Regions from separate parts of the Homo sapiens genome. Here region 2 is linked to region 1. Evidence: fine-mapped QTL for protein levels in blood plasma. A gene starts in region 1. The other region holds a variant in brackets. All regions are shown on one strand. Distances are from middle to middle.

Region 1 (4,385 bases):
CTTTTTTCCTTTGTCATTATGCAAGAATGGGGTTTGGAATATAGGATCAGAGTACAACCACTTTCCAAAGTTGTAGTTTAAAAATTATCCTTTGCCTGTTTGGATGGGAACATTCTAGTATTGCCTGTTCAATATATGTAATCAAACCCACCAAAAAATCCAACCACTGTTCCTACTCCGGAACTTGGGGTTTATCAGACTTGAGAAGGGAAAGCAGAGAGGAGTGGTTGGGCCGATAACTAGGAGTGGAGAAAATTGATGTCAAGGACATTGAAATGGCATCTGTTTTTACCCAGGCTAATTACATGTGTAATGAATGGCTGATGAACCATTATTAATTTCAAGCAAATCTACAGTTTGCTCTTGGGAAAAGAGCTCTAGTGATACAGATAACTTCCTGTGATGAGCCGATTCTGAATCTCTGCACCCTCTTTATTCCCATGTAAATGAGCACATTCTTAGTCTCCACACTATCTAAAATGATTGTAGGGGCAAAATGAGAGAGGGAAGCATTTAGGCAAAAACAAGGGGGTTATTTTATGCATAAACATCCATTCTTTGGGGCTCCCATCATTTGTGCCAGGGACAGAAGCATCCTTTCTCTTCCATCACCCGTAATCAGTGCTCCCAGCTGGCAGCCTGGCACTGGAGCCTTCATCTCAGTGCCAGTGCAATAAAGGAGTGGTCTGTGGGAGGCTGTTTCTGTATTAGGTATAACATTGTGCTAAGAAAAACAGCCAACTACTGATTTCATGTCCGTTTCCCTATGGGAAATTACTGGCCATGGAAGGAGAATATGGTTGGTTTTTCCTGGGCAGTCCCCGGAACTTAGAAAGCCATTTCTCCCCAGTCTTGACCTCCTGCCTGCTTACTCCTACCCATGGGTTGCACACAGACTCCCCTGTAGCCCAGTGCTTGTTACCAGTTGCTGGCCAGCAACAGCCCAGGGGGATGGCAACACCCACCTAGCCGTCTGCCAAGCCAGGAGGTCAGCACATGAGCACACAGTGGTGTCTGCCCTCTAGGCCAAGGTGCACAGTGTTAGGAGCCTCTTGCTCCACTCTCCAGATCAGCCTGGAAACCAGAGCTTCCCTCGTCTTAGACAAACAGATGGCCGTGGGCGATGCAGAGCCCTGAACTGCTGAGGGTGCTCCTTCCATTCTCGCCCTTCCCCAAAAAACATACACCAAACTTACCCCCAATCACAGCATCTGAGACCACAAAGCCCCACGGACACAGCTGCCCCGGGTACTGCCTGCCTTCCCCTTTTCTGGCCTCTGCAAACTAGCCATTCACCTGATGAAGCCCCTGGGGCAGTACCTTGGAAACCCCTGAGAGGAGGAGTTGAAGGAGGCTCAAAGCCTTTCAAGGACAGTGTGCACTCTGCCTGCCTCCTATTCTCTCCTGTCCTCTTAAGCCCAGAGTCTACAACAAAATTGTGTACCGCAATTCTCAGAGCTCTCTAACTTTAACCTTTCCCACCTTCCCTAGAACACATTTTTGGGTGGGGATCATCTGAGAGGCCCATGGATGAGTCCCCAAGATGACCTCTGTGGGTGACCAAGACAATCTTGTCTTTTGAGGCACCTGGAGTCTCTCATCCTTTTTTGAGCTGGGCTGTCCTCAAAGCAGGCCCTTACCTCTTATGTGGCCTCATCTTTAGAGGTGGGAAGTGGGCCCACATCCCCCACCCCAGCCCTGCAGTGGAGCTAGCGTGGGCCTGCTGGAGGACAGAACTGTGGAACAGGGTCCTGTGAGGATATGTGGCAGGGTTGGCGGGGGGATAGGGGGTCATGGAGGAGCCTACCTCTGAAAAGCATTCCCCTAGCTGCTACTGAAGCTAAATACAATTTATTTCATGCTGGGGGACAGAAAGGAGCAAGGGAGAGCAGTCACCTGCTCCTTATCTGGGCTATTTTCTTAGCAGACCTCAAAATGAGACCATGGTGGGAAGCTGGGCTGGGGCCAAGGGAAGAAGCTTGCCAGCACTGTCAGCCGATGAGCCCAGGAGAAAAAGCTGGGCCTAGTCTCTGCCCCATTCCTGTTCCACACCTGTCTGTACCCCTGTCTCTCCTTTCCCTGGCTCTGCCAGACTCTCTATCTCCCTGGGCGCCAGCCTCCCCACCCACCCCTGGAGGGCGGGGCTTGGCTGCACCCACGTGTGGTGGAGTTAAATGCTCCTAGCCGGCAGAGGAGCTAGGGAGTGTGGCACTGAGCCGGCTCAGGCAGAGACGCGGCACCATGGCTAGCAAGAAAGTCTGCATTGTAGGCTCCGGGAACTGGTAAGCAGCTCTGTCAAGTGATATGGGGGAAGGGTAGGCCCCCCAAGACAGAGGTGGGTAGGAGGCAGAATGGGTGGGAAAGGCCCTCAGGTTCCTGTTCAGCCCCTGCTGCTATCTTCTATCATAGCAGCACAGGACAGACGGTGCCCGGCCCTCTCCTGACCCCCGCCCTCCTGGGCAGCTGCACCTGTTCACCATGGGAAGGCGTCTCCAGAGCTCTCTATGTGAAGAGCCGCTTGAGTTTGGGGGTGGGAAGATGAGAAGTGGGGCTCCCTTCTCTAGTAGCAAAGGGTGAGGAGACTGAGTCTCCTTTCTACTGCCAGGTCACTGGGGACTATTTGTCATGGGAGTGGAGGTGATAAGGAAGGTAGGTAGGAGTGAACAGCCTGGGGGGCTGCTGTGAGATCCTGAGGTGGGGCGCTGCCCCAACTCCTGCCACTGTTCCCTCCTCCTGTACTTTCCTGTGCTCCCCCTCCCACCAGGGGCTCAGCCATCGCCAAGATCGTGGGTGGCAATGCAGCCCAGCTGGCACAGTTTGACCCACGGGTGACCATGTGGGTATTTGAGGAAGACATTGGAGGCAAAAAGCTGACTGAGATCATCAACACGCAGCATGAGAATGTCAAATACCTGCCAGGGCACAAGTTGCCCCCAAATGTGGTGAGCCCCAACACCCTGCGAAGAACAGGGAGAGGAAGGGAGGGCCAGGAGTTGGAGCCGACCTTACTCAACAGGTGCCTCCTGCTGAGAGGGCCGCTTCAGGTGCAGCAGGACTTGGGAAGGTCTCAGGAGGGCTGCTCTGGGCCCTTTCCTGAGGACTGAGGAGAACCTATGCTTTCCCCTCACAGGCTCCCAGGCGGGTGGGTGGGGAAGGGATGGGAGAACAAGTTGGTCTCCATGGCAGCCAAAGACTGGGCTCCCAGACTTGGGGTCCAGTAGTGCCTGCCTCCGGCACTAATCCTGTTACTCATTCACTGAGTGAGTAGCCGACTTGGAGGCTGCTCCTTGGACTTACGGTCTTTGGTCAAATCCACGTGGCTCTCCCCACCTGGAAAGGGGAAGCAGGGAAGAGAGCAGAAAGGCTGGGGCTCCCCCTTCCCAGCTGGGGTTCCTGAGGAGCTGGGTGATGAAATCTTATTTGAGCTCTTTCTTTTGCCAAGCCCAGGCTGCTTTTGGCCTCCCGCACTGTCCCACAGCCAAGGGATAGGAGAGTGCTGGGATGAGGTTTCCAGGAGTCCTCAAGAGCCCAGGACAGCTGGAGGGAGACAGAGTGGTAGCTGGGGGGAGGGAGTAGAGTGTCTTATTCCTCCAAGTTCAGTCCTTCTAGATTCAGTCCCAAACAAGCCTTCCTGCTCCCCTACCAGCCTCACTCTTTGGCTCCCAGATCTCCTGAATAGGGTTCCACAGGGGCTAGGGGAGGTCTGCCAGGCCCGCGAGCACTTGGTCACCCCCACAGGTGGCTGTCCCAGATGTGGTCCAGGCTGCAGAGGATGCTGACATCCTGATCTTTGTGGTGCCCCATCAGTTCATCGGCAAGATCTGTGACCAGCTCAAGGGCCATCTGAAGGCAAACGCCACTGGCATATCTCTTATTAAGGTGCCAGGGACACCTTCATGTGGATGGGGGAGGGTGCGGCTCACTGTTGTGGGGTTCAGGGTGGGTGAAGCAAGGAGAACAGAAAATGGCAGACGCAGGCCAAGAGTTTGCTGGAGAAAAGAGAGGCAGTTGGCTCTGGAGAGGCTTAGGAAAGCAGTGAGGTGCTGGGGGTCACTGGAAGGGAGGCTGAAGGGAGGAGACGAGATTGGTTTGGAGGTCCTCTCGGGGAGTTTCGGAGGTATAAAGGAATGCCTGGGAGATATGAGAAGCGGGCTGGTTTGAGAAGTGTGAAGAGTAGCTGGTTTGGAGCAGTGACTGGTCACTGAATGGCAGTTTGTTGGGGCAGTCAGGCGGGGTTGCCTAGGGATGTGGAGGGGACCCGTTGCCTTGGAGAAGTAGACTGGTTGAGGGTATGTGGCAGGACAGTTGGTCACATGCTGTCTGGCCTCCTCACAGCAAACTTGAGCTGGGTTGGAATGGGGCAGGACCTGTCGGGAGGGACACAG
Region 2 (4,385 bases), 700 kb after region 1:
GCTTTAAAATATATTTATCAAAAACTAGTAGGGCAGAGCCCAGTGGCTCACACCTGTGATCTCAGCCCTTCCAGAGGCCAAGGAGGGAGGATTGTATGAGCCCAGGAGTTCAAGACCAGCCAGGGCAACATAGTGAGACCCTGTCTCTTCACAAAATTAAAGTTAGCCAGGCGTGGTGATGTGTGCCTCTGGTCCCAGCTGCCCAGGAGTTGGAGGCTGCAGTGAGCTATGATTGAGCCACTACACTCTAGTGTGGGTGACAGCAAGACCCTATCTCTAAAAAGAAACTAACAGAACTGAAAAGAGAAATAAACAGGTCCACAGTTGCAGTTGATGATTTCAGTAAACCTGTCTCAGGATACATTAGAACTTACAGTCAGAAAATCAGAAAGATTATAGAAGAACCTAATGCCAGATGATATCAGAAGCCAACAAGATCTTTTTTTTTTTTTTTTCCCGAGACGGAGTCTCACGCTGTCACCCAGGCTGGAGTGCAGTGGCGCGATCTTGGCTTACTGCAACCTCCGCCTTCCAGGTTCAAGCAATTCTCCTGCCTCAGCCTCAAGTAGTGGGGACTACAGGCGCCCACCACCACGCCCAGCTAACTTTTTTTGTATTTTTAGTAGAGACAGGGTTTCACTATATTGTCCAGGCTGGTTTCGAGCTCCTGTTCTTGTGATCTGCCTACCTCGGTCTCCCAAAGTGCTGGGATTACAGGCATGAGCTTGGCCTAATTGACATTTTTATAACACTTGACCCAGCAGCTGTAGAATGAAGAAAATCTGCCAAAAAGTACCACATTCTGGGTCATAACAAATCTTAACAAATTTAAAAGAACTGAAATCATGCACAGTATGCTCTGTGATCATACTGGAATTAGAGTAGAATAATAGGTACAGGAAGGCTAGGCACGGTGGCTCATGCCTGTAATCCCAGCACTGTGGGAGGCCGAGGTGGCCAGATTGCTTGAGCCCAAGAGTTTGAGACCAGCCTGGGCAACATAGGGATACCTTGTCACTACAAAAAAATACAAAAAATTAGCTGAGTGTGGTAGTGCATGCCTGTAGTCCCAGCCACTCGGGAGGCTGAGGTGGGAGGATCACTTGAGCCTGGGAGATCAAGGCTGCAGTGAGCCGTGATTGTGCCACTTTACTCCAGCCTAGGTGACAGAGTGAGACCCTGTCTGTCTCAAAAAAAAAAAAAAAAAAAAACCTTTTGTGATTCTTAACCCATTGTGACCAAATGGTTCTTAGGTAGGGAATGTCTATGTAGTAAGTCTCCTTATTAATATTTTCAAGCATGAATAATTAGTTCTTTCCAGTGTGGTTCTTACAGACATTTGCAGGGTTACCATGTTTTCCTTCCTTATGAACACTCCCATCTTTACACTGAATTTGGAGTTTTCAGGTCTTGCTCTTAAGTCAGATATCAAAAGAAAGACTGAGAAGCAGACTTGGTGGCCAATTATTTGCATTACAGTGTTGAGAAAAAAAATAAAGCCAGGCACAGTGGCTCACATCTGTAATCCCAGCACTTTGGGAGGCCCAGGTGGGCAGATCACCTGAGGTCGGGAGTTCAACACCAGCCTGGCCAACATGGTGAAACCCCGTCTCCACTAACAATACAAAAATTAGCCGGGTGTGGTGGCGCACGCCTGTAATCCCAGCTACTCAGGAGGCTGAGGCAGGAGAATTGCTCGAACCTGGGAGGCAGAGGTTGCATTGAGCCGAGATTGCACCACTGACTCCAGCTTGGGCAACAAAAGCGAAACTGTCTCAAAGAAAAAAAAAAAAAAGAAAAAAATAATTGCTAGTAGATGTTTTTTCCTAAATCATTTAGCATTTACCAACTGTCCAGACCAAAGGTCATTTTCAGCTAGGAAAGTTCTGATTTCAACCTCTCCATTGGCCCATACGCAGCACAACTTATCCTGTTCCCAAGTACTCATTGAAGAACTTGTTTACTTGGCTGTCATTGACACCAGATGGGCTTGTAGACACAAAATGCCATAAGGATGACAGTTA[T/C]CAGCAGGATGCTGACAATGGTTCCCATCAACACCAGGTTCTGCCTGCACAGCACCACACAGGGCGGGCTTTGCTCCAGCAGATCCATGGGGCTCAGGGCCTCTGCCTGCCCCACCAGGAGGCTGCACAGGCCAAGGCACAGCCACGGCAACGCCAGATGCAGCATCTTCCCCTGTACTTTTCTTTATACTCAAAGTGTTTCATAATTTAAAATGGAAAAATAAATGGGTGCAGCATTCCACAGTCTCATGATAGACTGGCTGTAGGACCATGCAGGCATTGGACAGAGGTGTACTTGTGAAAAAAAAAAAAAGACCATGCAGGCAGTTTGTTAAATGGATCTGGAGCTCTACTCTAGACCTACTTACTCAATGATTATGGCCACCAGATGGGAATCTAGATTCAACAAACCTCTCCAGAATGATTCTGTTACATAGGCAGGTTTAGGAAGCACTCTGACTATTCTACAGAAATGCCTAAAACAGAGTCCTATAGGACTGACACCTCCATTGTGCTTCCTGTGGAACTTCTCTTAATATAGTCTACAGTTGTATTAGCTCTTGGTGGGACGACAGTCCACAGAAAGGAGACAAACTGGAGAAGGATCTTCAACATGTTATAGAAGAACACGTGAAAAAACTGAAAGTATTTGGCCTAGAATAAGGAAGACATGTAGCAATTATCAAATATCGCAAAGTAGGGCATGGATATAGAATTGGGATTAGGCTTAAATTTCTTGCTGTGACTCATGCCTGTAGTCCCAACACTTAAGGAGGCCTAGGTGGGAGAATCACTTGAGCCCAGGAGTTCAAGAACAGCCTGGGCAACATAGGCCCCATCTCTACTAAAAAAATAAAAAATTAGCCAGGTATGATGGCGTGTACCTATATTCCCAGCTGCTTGGGAGGCTGAGGCAGGAGGATCGCTTGAGCCTGAGAAGTCACGGTGGGGTGAGCCATGATCATGCCACTGTACTCCAGCCTGGGCAACAGAGTGAGGCTCTGTCTCAAAAGAAAAGAAAAAAATAATAAATAAATTTCTTTAGTTTCACTGGATGGAACCAGTTTTGGACCCAAAGAAGGAAAGGCTCTAACTATTCAATAATAGAATGGTTTACTTTTTGGAAATAGTGGGTGCCTTTTTCCTGGAAGTAGAGGTTTTCAGGAATGTTAGAGAATTTCTCCATGGGCTGGGAAGTTGGCATAGATAAAATAAAATAGCCATTTTCATTCTAAGGGCTTTCTTTTTCCTTTGTGGATTATTTTTTGTTGTTGTTTTCACGTAAGTATTTCAGTTTTCTCATTTTTCTACAGTGAACATAGAATTCTTAAGCATTTCTTTTTTCTTTTTTCAGAAGCAAACAATGCATATTGCCTACTCTTTCCTCTACCCCCAATTGTGTGTGTGTTTTTTTTTTGTTTTTTTTTTTTTTTTGAGAGAGTCTCACTCTGTCGCCCAGGCTGGAGTGCAGTGGCATGAATTCCACTCATTGGAGCCTCCACCTCCCGGGTTCAAGCAATTCTCCTGCCTCAGCCTCCCAAGTAGCTGGAATTACAGGCGTGAGCCACCATGCCCAGCTAATTTTTGCATTTTTAGTAGAGATGGGGTTTTGCCAAGTTGGCCAGGCTGGTCTTGAACTCCGGACCTCAGGTGATCCGCCTGCCTTGGCCTCCCACAGTGCTGGGATTATAGGCGTCAGCCACTGTGCCCATCCCCAATTGTCTTGAAAGACCTTTCTTTTCAGCAAGGAATACTTTTTCCATCCCTTATTCCTGTCATTAGTGCCATTTCACCAAGTCTGAGGGATACCCATGGGATCATATTTACCTCTTTTTGTTAAAATAAGCAATTTTATTCATCATTGATACGCTGTGCATTTTATAGTTTTTCTTACCTACTTCGTTTGGAGAACTGTTTTATTGTTTTTTTTTGTTTGTTTTTGTTTCTTTTGAGATGGAATCTCACTCTGTCGCCCAGGCTGGGGGTACAGTGGCACCATCTTGGCTCACTGCAACCTCCGCCTCCCAGGTTCAAGCAATTCTTCTACCTCAGCCCCCCGAGTAGCTGGGATTACAGGCTCGCACCACCATGTCCAGCTAATTATTGTATTTTTAGCAGGGATTGGGTATCACCATGTTGGCCAGGCTGGTCTCCAAACTCCTGACCTCAAGTCATTCGCCCACCTCAGCCTCCCAAAGTGTTGGGATTACAGATGGGAGCCACATGCCCAGCCCTCTTTACTCTTTAAACTAATATGTAATCAGCCTGGAGCACATCATTATAATAATATATGCTAAATAAAAGCATTCTTTGGTGTAATAGTTTAAGTGTCTGGTAGATTATTGTAATTTTTTTTTTTTT

Alleles and levels. Alleles are on the strand shown, and positions count from the first base shown. The strength of an association depends on the size of the effect and on how common the allele is.
For the plasma level of the protein whose gene starts at base 2,199 in region 1, T is the high allele of the variant in region 2 and C is the other (moderate association).

The links. PIP is the chance, under the fine-mapping model, that this variant and not a neighbour inherited with it causes the effect. The UK Biobank Pharma Proteomics Project read protein levels with antibody pairs (Olink). The fine-mapping took linkage between variants from a reference panel, not from the people measured, so its PIPs are less certain.
Region 2: its variant is fine-mapped to the plasma level of the GPD1 protein (UK Biobank, PIP above 0.99).

Annotation. Positions count from the first base shown.
Region 1 is chr12:50,101,810-50,106,194 of GRCh38, forward strand. GPD1 (glycerol-3-phosphate dehydrogenase 1) reads left to right here and starts at 2,199. Exons shown (of 8, transcript NM_005276.4): 1 at 2,199-2,282; 2 at 2,765-2,942; 3 at 3,739-3,879. The coding sequence starts at 2,242. RefSeq lists an enhancer at 1,209-1,258.
Region 2 is chr12:50,804,372-50,808,756 of GRCh38, forward strand. All of the region lies in intron 3 of ATF1 (activating transcription factor 1), which reads left to right. Among named protein-coding and RNA genes, the nearest start is that of TMPRSS12, 36 kb to the right of the region's middle. The variant T/C (reference allele first, on the strand shown) is at 2,025.